Linked DNA regions of Homo sapiens. The protein of the gene in region 1 purifies or fractionates together with the protein of each later gene. This does not show direct contact. Each region holds a gene or a part of one and is shown on either strand. Other genes may lie near its edges.

Evidence for each region.
Region 2: the proteins of DNAJB8 (region 1) and MLF1 purify together in Homo sapiens (affinity purification with mass spectrometry; 4 studies listed by BioGRID and IntAct, with this or other methods). This does not show direct contact.

Annotation. Positions count from the first base shown.
Region 1 is NC_000003.12:128,463,869-128,471,663, reverse strand, and holds the start of DNAJB8 (dnaJ homolog subfamily B member 8), read left to right. Parts: upstream 1-4,773; 5' UTR 4,774-5,050; intron 5,051-6,227; 5' UTR 6,228-6,388; intron 6,389-7,550; exon of another isoform or gene 7,551-7,553; 5' UTR 7,554-7,795. UniProt on the Homo sapiens protein: Efficient suppressor of aggregation and toxicity of disease-associated polyglutamine proteins.
Region 2 is NC_000003.12:158,588,182-158,595,205, forward strand, and holds part of MLF1 (myeloid leukemia factor 1), read left to right. Parts: intron 1-670; coding exon of another isoform or gene 671-743; intron 744-4,252; coding exon 4,253-4,400; intron 4,401-5,200; coding exon 5,201-5,245; intron 5,246-7,024. UniProt on the Homo sapiens protein: Involved in lineage commitment of primary hemopoietic progenitors by restricting erythroid formation and enhancing myeloid formation.

The sequences.
Region 1 (7,795 bases):
ATCCCTTCGGTCCCAGGTGTAGTCAACTACAGATGCCTGCTCTCTTTCCACTGAGCCACTGAGCCTGGTGCATGCTGTTCCCTTTGCATGGAACCACTCCCATGTTACAAGGCTCCTGCTTTATTAAGAAATAAATCACCAAACAGGTCACCTGTGTGTTTTAAATATTCACATTGAAGACATTAATGCCTTTGGTGCATCAAAAAGACATTGCATTATAATTGCGCTTGTCAAATGATAATTTCAGGGCTTAGAACAGAGTTCTCAACCTCGGTGCTGTTGACATTTGGGGCTGGATGATTCTTTGTGGTGGAGGCTGTCCTGTGCACTAGACAGGGATGTTCAGCAGCAGCCCTGCCTGGCCTCCACCCAGGAGATGCCAGTAGCAACTCCTCCAGTCATTGCCAAATGTCCCCTGGGGAGGGAGGACTGTCCCTGTTGAGAACCACTGATTTAGGAGATGAACTCCTCATGCCCCCAGGACAGGGTGGTCTGCAATGGGTACATGATCATAGCCATGTGATGAACACCTTCTTCCCACCTTGAAATGTTCCATGACTGAATGAACTACCTCCCTGGGGAAGGATGTCCAGTGTCGACATCCAAGACCCTTCATGTGTGTGAGGCCGACCCTGCTGGAACCTCCCTCTCCAAGCCCTGCCAAGGCGTCACCTCTTCTGACCAGCCTTCCCAGACGCCCCAGACAGTGTCACCTCTCCTTCCAGCGAGTGTTGCAGCTGCATTCGCACATTGGTGTGTGTCTGCTCCTTCCCCAGAGCCTGGGGTTGGGAGTTCCCTGCGTGGGAGGACAGGGGTGATGCTGCTGAATTCAACTGTTTCCAGCCCCCACTCAGACCAGTGCAGGGAAGAATTGTGAATCTGAATTGTTGGCCGCATAGGAGCCGCCCAGGCCCTTTGCTAGCAGACCTAGTAAGACCCAGATGTGCCCTGGACTCCAGGGAGCAGGCCTGGCTTGGGTGATGGGAGGGCCCAGGCTGAGAGAGGCACGAGGCAGCCAGACCTCCCGGTGAGGGACGGCAGGGCCCATGCTTTTGGAAACACAGCAGGGCTACAGGCCTCATGGAGGGCCTGTGTGCACATGTGTGACCATGTGTACAGGCGTGCTCACATGCATGGGGGCGTGGGTGCCTGAGCATACCTGTGGAAGTGTGGGGCACCCAATCTGACCTCCCTAAGAGCCCCAGCTTCCTGTAAGCCCCCGTCTTGCTTTGTTTTCTCTCACGGCATCTATGACACCTGCCATCATGTTAAATGTTCATGCATTATCAGTTTCTCCTATCTCCCCAACTGCATGTCAGCATCATAAGGGCAAGGCTTTGTCTGGTGCCTTCACTGACATATGGACCCCAGACCCAGGGGAGTGCCTGGTACACGGCACGTGTATGGACAACTGCTCAGGAAACGTGTGTGGGTGGCTGGGTGTGTGGGTGGCTGGGTGGCTGGGTGTGTGGGTGGCTGGGTGTGCAAATGGCTGGGTGTGTGGGTGGCTGGGTGGCTGGGTGTGCATGTGGCTGGGTGGGGGGGTGGCTGGGTGTGTGAATGGCTGGGTGTGTGGGTGGCTGGGTGGCTGGGTGTATGGGTGGCTGGGTGGCTGGGTGGCTGGGTGTATGGGTGGCTGGGTGGCTGGGTGGGTGGGTGGCTGGGTGGCTGGGTGTATGAGTGGCTGGGTGGCTGGCTGTGTGGGTGGCTGGGTGGGTGAGTGGCTGGCTGGGTGGGTGGGTGGCTGGGTGTGTGGGTGGCTGGGTGGGTGGGTGGCTAGGCATGTGGGTGGCTGGGTGGGTGAGTGGCTGGGTATGTGAGTGGCTGGGTGTGTGGGTAGCTGGGTATGTGTGTGGCTAGGTGGGTGGATTGATGGGTGTGTGTATGGGGAGATGGGTGGCTATCTGCTGGTACAGATGTGTGCATACGCATGCACGCCTTTACTCTGGAAGATACTTCAGGCTTTTTTGTTCTATACTGTTTCCAGAAAGACCCCGGAAATGCCACACCCCGGAAACTGCAGAGCCCCGTGGGTGAATGGAGAGGCTCTGGGGGTTGGATCCTCCTGGAGGCTTCGAGTAACTGAGGAACTCAGGGTAACAGCCCTGCCTAGGGTTGCTGTATGCCAGGGGGGCTGGGTGCTGGGACCCTGGAGGAGGGGAGCTGCCCTAACTGGCTGAAGCAACTTGGAACTCAGAGGGCCCCGCAAATGATGCCTTCACTCAGGCAGTAAACCCCTACTTGGGGCTAGATCTGAGCCTCCAGAGACCACATGAGCCACCACCAGGAAGGATGTACCTGGGTTGGGATGGCAGGGAAGGGATCTGGGCAACCCAGTGGGCACCTGTCATCACTGGCTTGGAGGACTGGGCAGGAAGGCTGCCTGAAGAGGTCTGAGAGCAGAGCTGAGATCGCCCTGGCACCACTGGGGAGGACGTGAGCTCACTGGCCCTTCTACGGTTGCGTAGCCCACCGCCTTCCCACCCCATGGGCCACCAATCTGCATGTAAGCCTGCCATGGGCCTGTCTGCCTACCATGGCTTCCACTGGCTCACCAGGCAGGCTGCCCTTTCATCTGTCTCTGCCCACCCATTATCGACACTGCCAGGATGCCAGCACACGCACACACAGCTCCTTCTCCATTCTGAGCTCCTCACAGTAACCCTGTGAGAGGGGACCATCATTACTTCCCTTTTACAGATGAGATGAGGACACTGGGGCACAGCCAGGTTATTGACTTCCCCAAGGACACATGGCTGGGGAGTGGCAGTGCTGGGGTTGGAACCCAGGCTGTGTCACCTGACAGGCTGAGCTCTTCCCCACTGTGGGATCTGCCCCTTGGCCCGTCTGTCTGTCCATCCGCCCATCCACTCTGTGACTGCCCACCGTTCAGCCCCTTCATTCGCCTGCCACTCTGTCCATCCAGCCGCCCGTCCATCCATCCATCGCTGTCGCCCATCCATCCTGGAGCTAATGCAGTTAGAGGACCAGGGGCCCTGAGGGGAGAGAAGGCCCCAAACTGCCCATCTGGCCGGGCCAGGGTGGCCGGGGGTGGGGTGGGCTGCCCAGGCCAGGCAGGCCTGCAGGGGGCTGGAGGGAATTAGCTGAGTGACTGCCAGGATCATCTAATTAGGAACTCTAGTGATAAGCAGATAGGATCGGGGGTGATTAGAATCCTTTTAAAAAGCCACTCCATTAATTACAGAGACAGAGAGGGGCCTCTGGCTGCTCCGAATACCAATTGGCTGCTTAATCGGCTCCATCAGCTCGCCCGGGGGAGACCTTCCTGGTACTGCTGTGTGACCTTCGGTGTGCCCTGCCCTCTCTGGGCCTCGCTTGGTCGCTGAAGGTCCTTCTCTCCCTGGCCATGGCTCGGGGTTGGCTTTAGGGTGGGCCTGAGATGAGGGACATGGGACATCTGAGGCCAGGAAGCCTAGGCTGGCTCCCCAGAGAGGGCAAATCCCCAAAAGCACCCACTGGTGAATGAGGACAGAGAGGCTTGAAGAGGGGAGGTGGCCTGACAGAATTGACGGTGGAGCGTGTGGGGCCTAAGTGTGCGCTCATGCCTGTGTGTCCCTGTCCCTCCAGCAGGCCCTATGGAGGCCTCAGAGCCCCTGATGCTCCCCACTGGCTCCCCAAAAACTGGCGTGGAAGGAGACTAGCCTGAACCCTTTGCAGAAGGGAAACTCCTCTGCACACTGCCCGGCTCCACGGTCCACAGCTCCCTTCATGGGGAGCTCCCCACAGGGGCCTCCATCTCAGGATGCCCTTGATGGTGAGGTGTGGGACCTGCTCCCAGGTGACACACCTGTTCCCGTAAGTCCTACCGAGTGGTCTGTTCTGTGTGCCCTAAGACAGCCCTGAATGGGCGGCAGTGAGGGGGTCTCCAGCCCTGTCTCCATCCTGGCTGACTCCCACAGACCCATCCCAGGAACAAGGGTTGGAGCAGGGCAGTGGCTGGAAGAAATTTCCCCTGGGAGTACAACGCAGACCAGAGCCAGGGTCTCCAACAAGGCAGGGAGGGCCAGGACGGGGAGGCGGCCACAGGATTCTTGGATGCCTCATCATACTAGGTCCTTTGTCTCTTAACATTGTTTTCACCACCCCTCCTCCACTGTCCTGATTCCATCGTCATGGAAACTTCAGGCTTCACCTTTACAATGTCAGGCCACCAACACCCTCAGCAGTGTCACCATCACCATCAACACCCCAGCGTCCCATCCCCATCTCCTCTACCACTGCCACCAGCCCCACTATCACTATCATCTCTGTCACCGTCACCACGGTGCTCTCCACCCGTGTCAGCATTGTGTCACCACCACATCACTGTCACCACACTTCCTCCACCTCCATCTCCACCCACCATCCCATCTGTGACATCACCTTATCAGCTCTGCCACCAGTATCAACCACTCACACCGCCTTTGCCATCACCACCGTCATTGCCCCCTCTACTACCACCACCATCACCACCACCGGGTCTGCCTCAGCCAGACCCACCACTGCCTCTAATTAGACTGCCACCATCATCACTGCCACCACCACTGCCCCTCCAATGCCTTCCTGATGTCACCATCTGCTTTCTCTCTGCTATCCTCACACCCAACTCCATCACAACCACCACCTTCATCTGAGCCGCCATCACCCTCACAGTACACAGCCCTCAAATGTGTACCAAGGAGGAGGACATTTACTACACGCTGCACCCTGAACAGTCTGGGACCAGCGGTCAGGGAACAAGGAATCGAGATGCTCACCTGCAGCTCCCAGGTGAGCGGCTCTCTAGAGCTTGCCTGGGAGCTGCTGAGGAGCTCACGGTATTCCAGGAAGCTCCCCATCCATGCCTCAGCCTGTGGCTCAGAAGCAGGGTCTTCGCAGAAGATTGCCCCGAGCTGTTGCAAAGCTCACCATTGTCACCTGCCTGCAACGGCCTCTCTTTTCCACTCTCCAAATCCCTTGTATTGGCAGGCTCTAGTCTGGAATTATACCGGTGATGGGATTCTGGAAAATCCCTCAGATTTCTCCAGGATGCAAGGAGACCATGGAAGAGGTTGGTGTAATGCCAAGTTAGCAACAGAAAATACAGAGCCCCACACCTCAGTGCCATCACCATCGCCATCGGCACTCACACCAGCATGTCCACCACTGTGTCCTTCTCACCCCTCGGCACCCCCCTCTACCATTGCCTCTTCCACAACCACCCTCACCACCATCCTCCATTAATAGCACAATTCCTGCCTCCTATCCCATCACCACCACGGGTGTCCCCGGCACCAGCAGCACCAACACTGCTCCCAGCAGAGCCATCGTTACCAGCCCCGCTGTCAGTCCCATCTTGAGCATCTGGCATATGTTGGAGAACTGCTCACTCCCTCTTCCCCATGGGAATCTCAGGCCTCTCTTCCTATTGCCCTGAGATTTGCAGAACCTTCCTGAAGGAAACATTCTTTGCCCCATGGATACTGGCCTTGACCATGGGATGCAGCAAGACTGCCACACATCATGGCCCAACAGAAGCTTTCAGAGGCAGCCCAAGTTCCTGCTGTCTCTGAGTGGCACTGTCATGAGAGAGGGGTGTGCAGGTCAGAGCTGATTCTCCAGCCTGGGACCCACAGTGAGAAGCTATGGGAGGTGGGGCCCTGGCAGCTGCCTGTAGGCACCAGTGAGTGAAGTGGGGGGAACTAGATGTTTGTCGTGAGCCACTGAGAGGTGGAAGCTGTCACTGTGGTATAGCCGAACAAGATACAACCTCTGCTACCTCCACCACCTTCACCTTCATCATCACCATTACTGTCACCACTGCCAACCACACCAATGGCTCACTAGGAGCCATTCCCATCACCTCCTCATCATACCTGCACCATCACTGCCAACCACAACAAAGGCTCGCTGTTACCATCTCCTCTGGCATGACCATCACCACCACCACTACCATCATCAATTACTCTCAAGCACAAGCCTTGCTGCTGTCACCACCAGCATCACCATCATCATGATCAACTCCACCATCACCCATAATTACTCTCCCCCTCACACCCACCATGACCATTACCTCCACATCAACACTGCTCCCATGGTCACCTCTACTATATAATGACACCTTATCCATCTCCATGGACACCCACCGTGCCTCTCCCCACCAGCAACACAGTCAACAGCAGTGCCTCTCCCACTGCCACCGCCATCATGGAGAACTGTGCAGGGCAAGCATCTTTCTCCCGCCCCAGGAACAAGCCTGCAAGGGACAGCAGGTGCTAACTGCTAACCGAGACATAGTGACAAAAATCCAGCCACAGAGATAAAGAATCAGGTTCATCTGTAGCTACATCCAGTGGAGAAGTTCTGCTCTTCAACTCCTCTGCTAAGCCACATGTGTCAGCAGGTGTAGGTGGGTGGATGCCCAGCATGGGGGTGCGAGTCGTGCTTTTGATAAGCTGCATGGAGGGACAGCGATGGTCACTGGAGGCTGGGTTTACAAAGTGTCTCTACAGTCTGTCTCCATTCCTCCTGGCATTTGGGATTGGTTAGAACACACACTGTCCCCTGCTAGGAGCCTGAAACCTAGCACCCATGAGCACTGAAAGAAAAGAGAGAGAGGGAGGATAATAGAAAGGGATGAAGACTAGAAAAAGGAAGAGGAGGAAGAAGGGAGGAATGAAGGAAGGAAGGAGGAAGGAAAGAAGCCAGGAGTGAAGAAGGGAGGGAAGGGAGAAGGGGGAAGGGGAGGGAGGAAGGAAAGAAAGAAGGAAGGAAGGAGAAAGGGAGGAAGGAAGGAAGGAAGGAAGGAGGAAATGAAGGAAGGAGGGGGAAGGGAGGGAGGGAGGAGGGAAGGAAGGCAGGGAACGGAAGGGAAGGGAAGGGAAAGAAGGAGGGAAGGAGGGAGGGAGGAAGGGAGGAAGGAAAGAAGGCAGGCAGGAAGGCTATCTTTAGTTAAGACTTGGTGACCCAAACATCTAGGCTCTTTATTGGTGTGGTTAGTAGGTGGTTTAGCATGGTTTTGATCTTAATTGGAGTGGGGTGAGGTGAAGGTAGGAACAGATATTAATCAGTATTGTGAATTGCTGTTTCTATATATGATCCAACACCAGAACAAGAATTAAAGGAATATAAATGCCTAAGAATATTTGGTTACCTCACTCACCTGATTCGTTTTCTAGGGCTGTTACAAATTATTACAAACTGGGTAGCTCAATACAAAAGAAATCTCTTCCCCCAGTTCTGGAGGCCAGAGGTCTGAAATCGAGGTGTTAGTGGGGCCGCACTCCCTCTGGAGGCTGCAGGGAGAACCCTCCTGGCCCCCAGCTTCCAGCTGCGTCAGTGTCCATCTCCTATACGGACATGTGTCACTGGATTTAGGGCCCACTCAGATAATCCAGGATGATCTCATCTCGACATCCTTAATTTAATTACATCCGAAAAGATCCTTTTTCCAAATAAGCTCACATTCAGAGGTTCCAAGGATTAGGATAGGAACATATCTTTTTGGGGGCCACCATTCAACCCACTACAGTCAGTAATCAATATTTATCATCAATTCCTATTTTTCTTACCAGAATTGAGTGGAACACTTCTTTGGATTTGCTGTCCGCTGCAGCCTTGGCCCTGGTTTCACATCCCCTCCCTCACTGACTCGCTGTGTGACCTTGAGCACTGTGTGTCTCTGAGCCTGGTTCATCCAAGAGTTTACCGACGGCCCTCGTGTGCCAGCCACTGTCCTAGACAGGGACAGACTTTCCCGCCTTTGTGGAGCTTACCCCGGAAGACCTGGCCAGATAATGGGCACAAAAAAAGCAGG
Region 2 (7,024 bases), about 30 Mb from region 1:
GAAGTGGATTCTCCACCAGTCAAGACTTGAGATGACTAAAGCCTCAACTGATAACTTCATTGCAGCCTACAGAGAGGCCCTGAGTCAGAACTACCCACCTAAACTGCTCCTGATTCCTAATCAACAGAAATTGTGACATAACAAATGTTGTTTTAAGCTGCTAAGTTACAACAGCAATAGATAACTAATACATGTTATGTCAGAATAACACATTGATTGAGACCATCCTGGCTAACACGGTGAAACCCCGTCTCTACTAAGTACAAAAAATTAGCTGGGTGTGGTGGCTGGTGCCTGTAGTCCCAGCTACTCGGGGGGCTGAGGCAGGAGAATGGCGTGAACCCAGGAGGCGGAGCTTGCAGTGAGCCGAGATCGCGCCACTGCACTCCAGCCTGGGCAAGAGAGCGAGACTCCGTCTCAAAAAAAAAAAAAAAAAAAAAAAAGCAGAAAAAAACTGCCCTCATTCTAAGTCATCAGTTTTGTTGCTTTCATCTAAAGACAGGAAAATGAACTACAAATCTACAAAAAGTTTATACGTGTGTTTCTGCATCATAAAAAACAGATATTTATAGATATTCGCAAAATTTTGAGACCACATTCAGGATGGCCTCAATTAAGACATAAGCTTCTATGGCATAAACAAACCTCATTTGAGGATGTTGTTTCTCAGACATACAGGTGGTCTTACTCTGCAGCAGCTGAAACTGAAGCACAAGAAGCCCTTGGAACTATCATCAGGACATGTAAGTCCCATGTACTAAAATACTTGGGCCAGAGAAAACCAAGTATAGTTTAAATAGGAGTTTCCCCTCCCCTAAAATCCAAAGTCACTAAGGAGGAACTTCAAGACTGCAGGCATTGGTTGCAGTGGAGATTTTTCTCTGTGTAGCAAGCACCAAGGTGAGCAGAGCCTTTAATTAAGAATAGTTAGTAATTTTGCCAAGAAATGGTAGGGGGACCATCTGATATATAGGATGGTTCAAATTCCATAAACATTATTTATTTATTTATTTATTTTGAATTTTTGTATTTTTTTTTATTTTATTTTGAGACGGAGTCTCACCCTATTGCCTAGGCTGGAGTGCAATGGCATGATCTTGGCTCATCACAACCTCCACTTCCCGGGTTTAAGTGATTCTCCTGCCTCAGCCTCCAGAGTAGCTGGGATTACAGGCACCTACCACCACACCCAGCTAATTTTTGTACTTTTAGTAGAAACGGGGTTTCACCATGTTGGCCAGGCTCTTCTCAAGCTCTTGACTTCGTGATCCACCCACCTCGGCCTCCCAAAGTGCTGGGATTACAGGCATGAGCCACCGCGCCCAGCCCTCCATAAACATTTATAATGTATACTGTGTGTCAAGCACAGAGGTTGGTAATATGAATGAATAAAGATACAGTTCCTACTCTAGAAGAACTTATACTCTAAAAGAGGAGTGAGACTTTTGTATATTTTAAAATTAAAATTAAAAAACTTGTATTAGTTTCCTATTGCTTCTATAACAAATTACCACATATTTAGAGACTTAAAACAACAAATCATCTTATGGTGGAGATCAGAAGTCCAAAATGGGTTTCCCTGGGCTAAAATCAAGGTGTTGGCAGGGCTACATTCCTTCTGGAGTTTATGGGGGTGAATCTGTTTCCTTGTCTTTTCTAGCGTCTAGATACTGCTGTGTTCCTTGGCTTCTGGCCTCTTCCTCCATTTTTAAAGCCAGCAGTGTAGCATCTTCTGATTATGACACTACTATCTCCTTCTCATAAGGACCCTTGTGATTACATTGGGCCCACTGGGATAATCCAGGATAATCTTCCCATCTCAAAATCCTTATACACATTAGCAAAATGTGGTAAAAACTGAAGACCTAACAAAGATTCATGGTTGTGTGGCTGAATATATTCATGTTAAGAGAATGAAAAAGGCAAGTCCAAGACTGGGAAAAAATTTAAAACCTGTATCTGATAAAAGTCTGTGTCCAGAATATATAAAGAACTCTTATAACCTGATTTTTAAAAATGGGGGAAGTATTTGAAAAGACGGTTCTATCAAAGAACATACATGAATGACAAATAATACAAAATAAAACTACAATGAGATGTTATGACCCTACCACTCAAATGGCTACAGTTAAACATTGACTATCCTATATTTCACCAAGAATGCAGTGCAACTGGAACTCTCAGTTACAGTTTTCATAAAATTTACATACTCTTCTAATACAAGCCATCAGTCCTTGCTCTGAGGTGTTTACTTAAGTCAAATTATGTATACACAAAGACTAGTACATAAATATTCATAGTAGCTTTATTCATAATAGCCAAAAACTAAAAACAGTTTTGTGATTATGATACTGATATATGTATGAACTTAGCAATAAAACTGAATGAACTGAAATAGAGAACAACATGGATGAATCAAAGAAGCATTATGCTAAGGGAAAGAAGCTAGACACAAAAGATGACATACTATGTGATTCCATTATATGAAATCTGGAGAAGACCAAACTATAATGACAGAAAGCCTATTCATGGTAACTAGGGCTAGGAGCAGGTAATTATCTGCAAAGAGACGAGGAAGCTTTTTGGAATGATAGAAATGTTCTACATCTTAATTATGGTGGAGGTTATGACTGCACTTTTTAAAATTCATCAAACTGTACAACAAAATTGGTAAATTTCGTTGAATGTAAATTATGCCTAAACAAGGCTGAATGAAAACATCTGTCTATACATACAAGCACAAATCCAGTTAAGCAGTTTGCTAATCTTAAACTCACACTTGGAACAATTATGCTTTTTTTAACCTCCAAGGTAATGTGTGAATAAATCTGAGCTCTTTTGGAATAGGTTTATGTATACAAATACTATGAAATTCAGAGGAAAAGCTCTTTCTACTTGGACTTATGAGCAGAAGACAGAATTTTTGAGCTTCCTCCTTTGAGCTTCCTCCTTTGAGCTGGAGTTGCAAGGAAAATTTCTTTTTTTTTTTTTTTTTTGAGACAGAGTCTGGCTCTGTCACCCCGTCTGGAGTGCAATGGTGCAATCTTGGCTCACTGCAACTTCTGCCTCCCGGGTTCAAGCAATTCTCCTGCCTCAGCCTCCGGAGTAGCTGGGATTATAGGCGTACGTCACCACACCCGGCTAATTTTTGTATTTTTAGTAGAGATGGGGTTTTACCATGTTGGCCAGGCTGGTCTTGAACTCCCGACCTCAAGCAATCCACCTGACTCAGCCTCCCAAAGTGCGGGGATTACAGGCATGAGGCACCACGCCTGGCCAAGAAAAAATTTTAAAAACTTTCTAGCTTCTTTATGATGACATCAGAGGATTGGAATTAGAAGGGGGAAGGGTGACCTAAGAAGAATAACTGAAGTGGAGAATCTGAAAGGAGGCCAGACTATTGGAGAGGGAGTTCCACTGGGCTGCAGGAAAGCATAAGATTGCCTTGGTAAAGTGAGCTCCAATCATGGTGTACCTTAAGTTCTAGAACGAGGAATAAGGAATTGATTAGTGGGTCAGTAACTGTCCAACTGGAACAAAGTTGGGAAACCACTGTGATAAGGTAAAAAAAAAAAATTTAGGTTCTTTAATGAGACTTGTGATGAAAGGGTAAATATCAGATTATAGTGTTGGTATTTTTATGCAATATGGGATAAATAAAGATGTTTTTTTTATTATGCATTAAATGAATTATATTGGATAACAGTAACAGGTTTTCATTAATTTTATTTATAACTACAGATGCTTCTCAACTTAACGATAAGATTACATTCCAATGAACCCATCGCAAATTGAAAATATTATACATCAAAATGCATTTAATACACTTAACCTACCGAGTATCATCAGAACATACACATTAGTTTACAGTTGGGCAACATCATCTAACATAAAGCCTACTTTATTATAAAGTGTTGAATGTCTCATGTAATTTATTGAATACTATACTGAAAGTGAAAACCAGCATGGCTGTATGGATCATTGAAGTACTGTTTCTCCTGAATGTGGAGTGCTTTCATACCACAGTAAAGTCAAAAAACCTTAACTTAAACCATTGTAAGTAGGGAACCATCTAATAATGGATCTTTATGAGATAATTCTATTCTATTTATGAATAAAATAGAGTTCTCTTCTACTCTTCTTTTATCTAACAAACATATTAGCCCAAAATAATTATTTGTAATATTTACCTGCCTACTTACTATTTAAACTCCAACACTGAATCTTTCATGATTATGTATATTTTCAACAGTGAGTCCATTCTTGCACACCGAGAAAATATGCGACAGATGATAAGAAGTTTTTCTGAACCCTTTGGAAGAGACTTGCTCAGTATCTCTGATGGTAGAGGGAGAGCTCATAATCGTAGAGGACATAATGATGGTGAAGATTCTTTGACTGTAAGTTCTTTTTTTTAAGACAGTTAGTGAGAAGGCCCTGTAGGAATTTGAAGAAAAGTATTACAGAAGTATATATCTATAATGATAGGATATGACTAATATTCTTGTTCTAGAAATCACTATTATATAAAAGGGGGGACCTTTGGAAAGGTGAATCCTGAACAGTGACTTGTCAGCTATATGGAATTTCACTGTGCTACCAAAACTGTTAGGTCCATAGAAGCATATATTAGAAGCAAAACTTAAACCATTATTTTTTATATTTATGTATACATTTCTCACCTTATAACTTCCTCTGATATCTGAAATTAGAACAGGCAAGGAAATATCCTTTCTCTCCCATACTCATTGTTTTAATACTTGAAAATAGTATCAAAAGCTACAAAGGATTGTCTTTATTGGACCAGGAAACACTGATCTTCTATATGGTTACGTATGGACCTTCAAAGCTTAGATTAACCTTTGCTTGTATCTCAAAAGCCTTACAACTGAAATATATTTTCATATGTCTTGCCTTAGAGCAAAGCTAGAGGTTACAAACATACTCAACTAAAAATTAAAAAAAAAACAGGATATTTATATATTGTAACCATTTTCTTTTTTGCCTCTTTTATTTCTTTTGCTTTTTCAGCCTCATGAATGATAGTTCTAAGATAACAAGCCCTCAGGGGTTTCTATAAAGATGAATCTCAGCAATTGAAATGTAGCAATTTGAAATTCAGTAAACATTTAATTGGTAAATTGAGAAACTTCTATATAATAAATGTCATAATCAAATGAATTGGATATTATTTTTCCAGGCAACGAGTTGTTCTCTTGTGCCTTTTGGCGATTTTGGTGGTATGGTTCGTATCTTAAGACACAAATCATTTTAGCAATATTTTCTGACAAATATTTATTTTTCATTAACTCAAGCTGACTGAATTGGCATGCAGCCTCACTTCCATAATGGCTTTTTAATGTTTGTACTGAAAACCTCTGTTTCAAGTATCAGACTTACCTTAGAAAGTTTAGGCACATGTTTCCTGAAGTAAGTCATTTCAACATATATAAAATTCATCTTCAAAAATAAAAAGTAGATTTTATTGAATGAATATTTGCTTGATTTACAAAAGGGATCCTCATAGTTGTGTTTGAAAGTTGGGGACTTCCACATGCTTATGATTACTTTCCAAAAGGTTTTTTAAAAAGTACTAAACTGTAGATAGATAAGCACAACGTTTGGAAAAGCACAGATTAACTGCTTTCTCTAGGATTTTGTTGCCACCTTGCCCAGGCAGCTTTTTCTTGTCTGTTCTTAAGAATGGCCACTCTGCAACCAGCGTTTCTACCACCTGTTTCTTAGGGTTTTTGTGCTGTGTCTGTGATGCTAGCTTCCAACACACTAAAAGCATTCTGGGGAGTAGCAGAAAATAACATGAATTTGGAACATTTGTATCTACAGTCTCATGAAAACGGTTTTTTTTTAATTATTTTGTGCTACAATTGAATCATTTGTTTCCTTGAAGTTTGGCATACAGGTATAACATTTATCCCTCCTGACCAGAGTATTTAGTAAGACAAATAACAAAAAAAAGCAGTTATAACACAGAGTTATGAGTAAAATGATCAGGAAGTTCAGCATGCTATGGGAGCACAGATGGAAAAAAGCACCTTTTGAGGTGGGGTGGGTCAATCCAAGTAGACTTCTTGAACTTTAAGGATTAGTAGAAGTTAGCCAGAAAAGGAGGGAGGGGAAAGGAATACTGTTCAACAGAGAGGAAACAGCATGTGCAAAGACCTGCAGGCTAGGGAGCTAAAACATGTTTAGTATCACTTAGCCCTGGAGTATGAGTTGAACAGTAGATACTGATGAGGAAGAAGAGGTAACCAGAGACTTCTTTAGACCGTAGAAGGAGAGTAAACATCATCTTAAAAGCAGAGGAAGCAGTGATGACTTACGTCAAAGTGGTAATAGAGTCATATTCTTGAAATATTAGAAGAGACCATAGTGGAGGCAGGGAAGCCAGAAGGCTGTTGAAGCATTCTTGGTAAAGTATTAGTGATGGCTTACTTCTACTAGGTAATGTCTGTGGTGATAAAAATGAATTACCTCATTTGAGAGAGAGTTAAAAGGGCGAATGGATGGAACTTGGTGATTGACAGGGTTGAAGGAGCAGTAGAGAGGGAGAAGGGAAGTATCACACCCATTTTTCTGGCATGAAGAATAAGGTAGATGGGAATGCCACTGAGATAAGGCATTGATTCAGTACAGATACAGGAGTGAGGTGGTCAAAACAATCATTTTAGTTTTGGATGTTTGGCATTTGAGGCATCTGTGAGTTTTCCAGGTAGATTTATCTGGTAAACTGTTGGATATATGGATTTGAGCTGAGCTAGAGATAATTTATTCATTCATTCATTCCGCAAATATTTATTAAACCCTCTTAAGTGCCAGGAATTATTATATATGTATTGGGGATATTGTAGTAAATAGACAAAATCGCCCTGCCCTCAGAGATTATTTTTATAAAGTGGGAAGATAGACAATAAACAACAAAATAATTTCAGATAGTCACAGTACCCTGAAGATGAAACAGGGTAATGATACAGAGATGGGGGGAAGTGAAGGAGGGATTAGACAG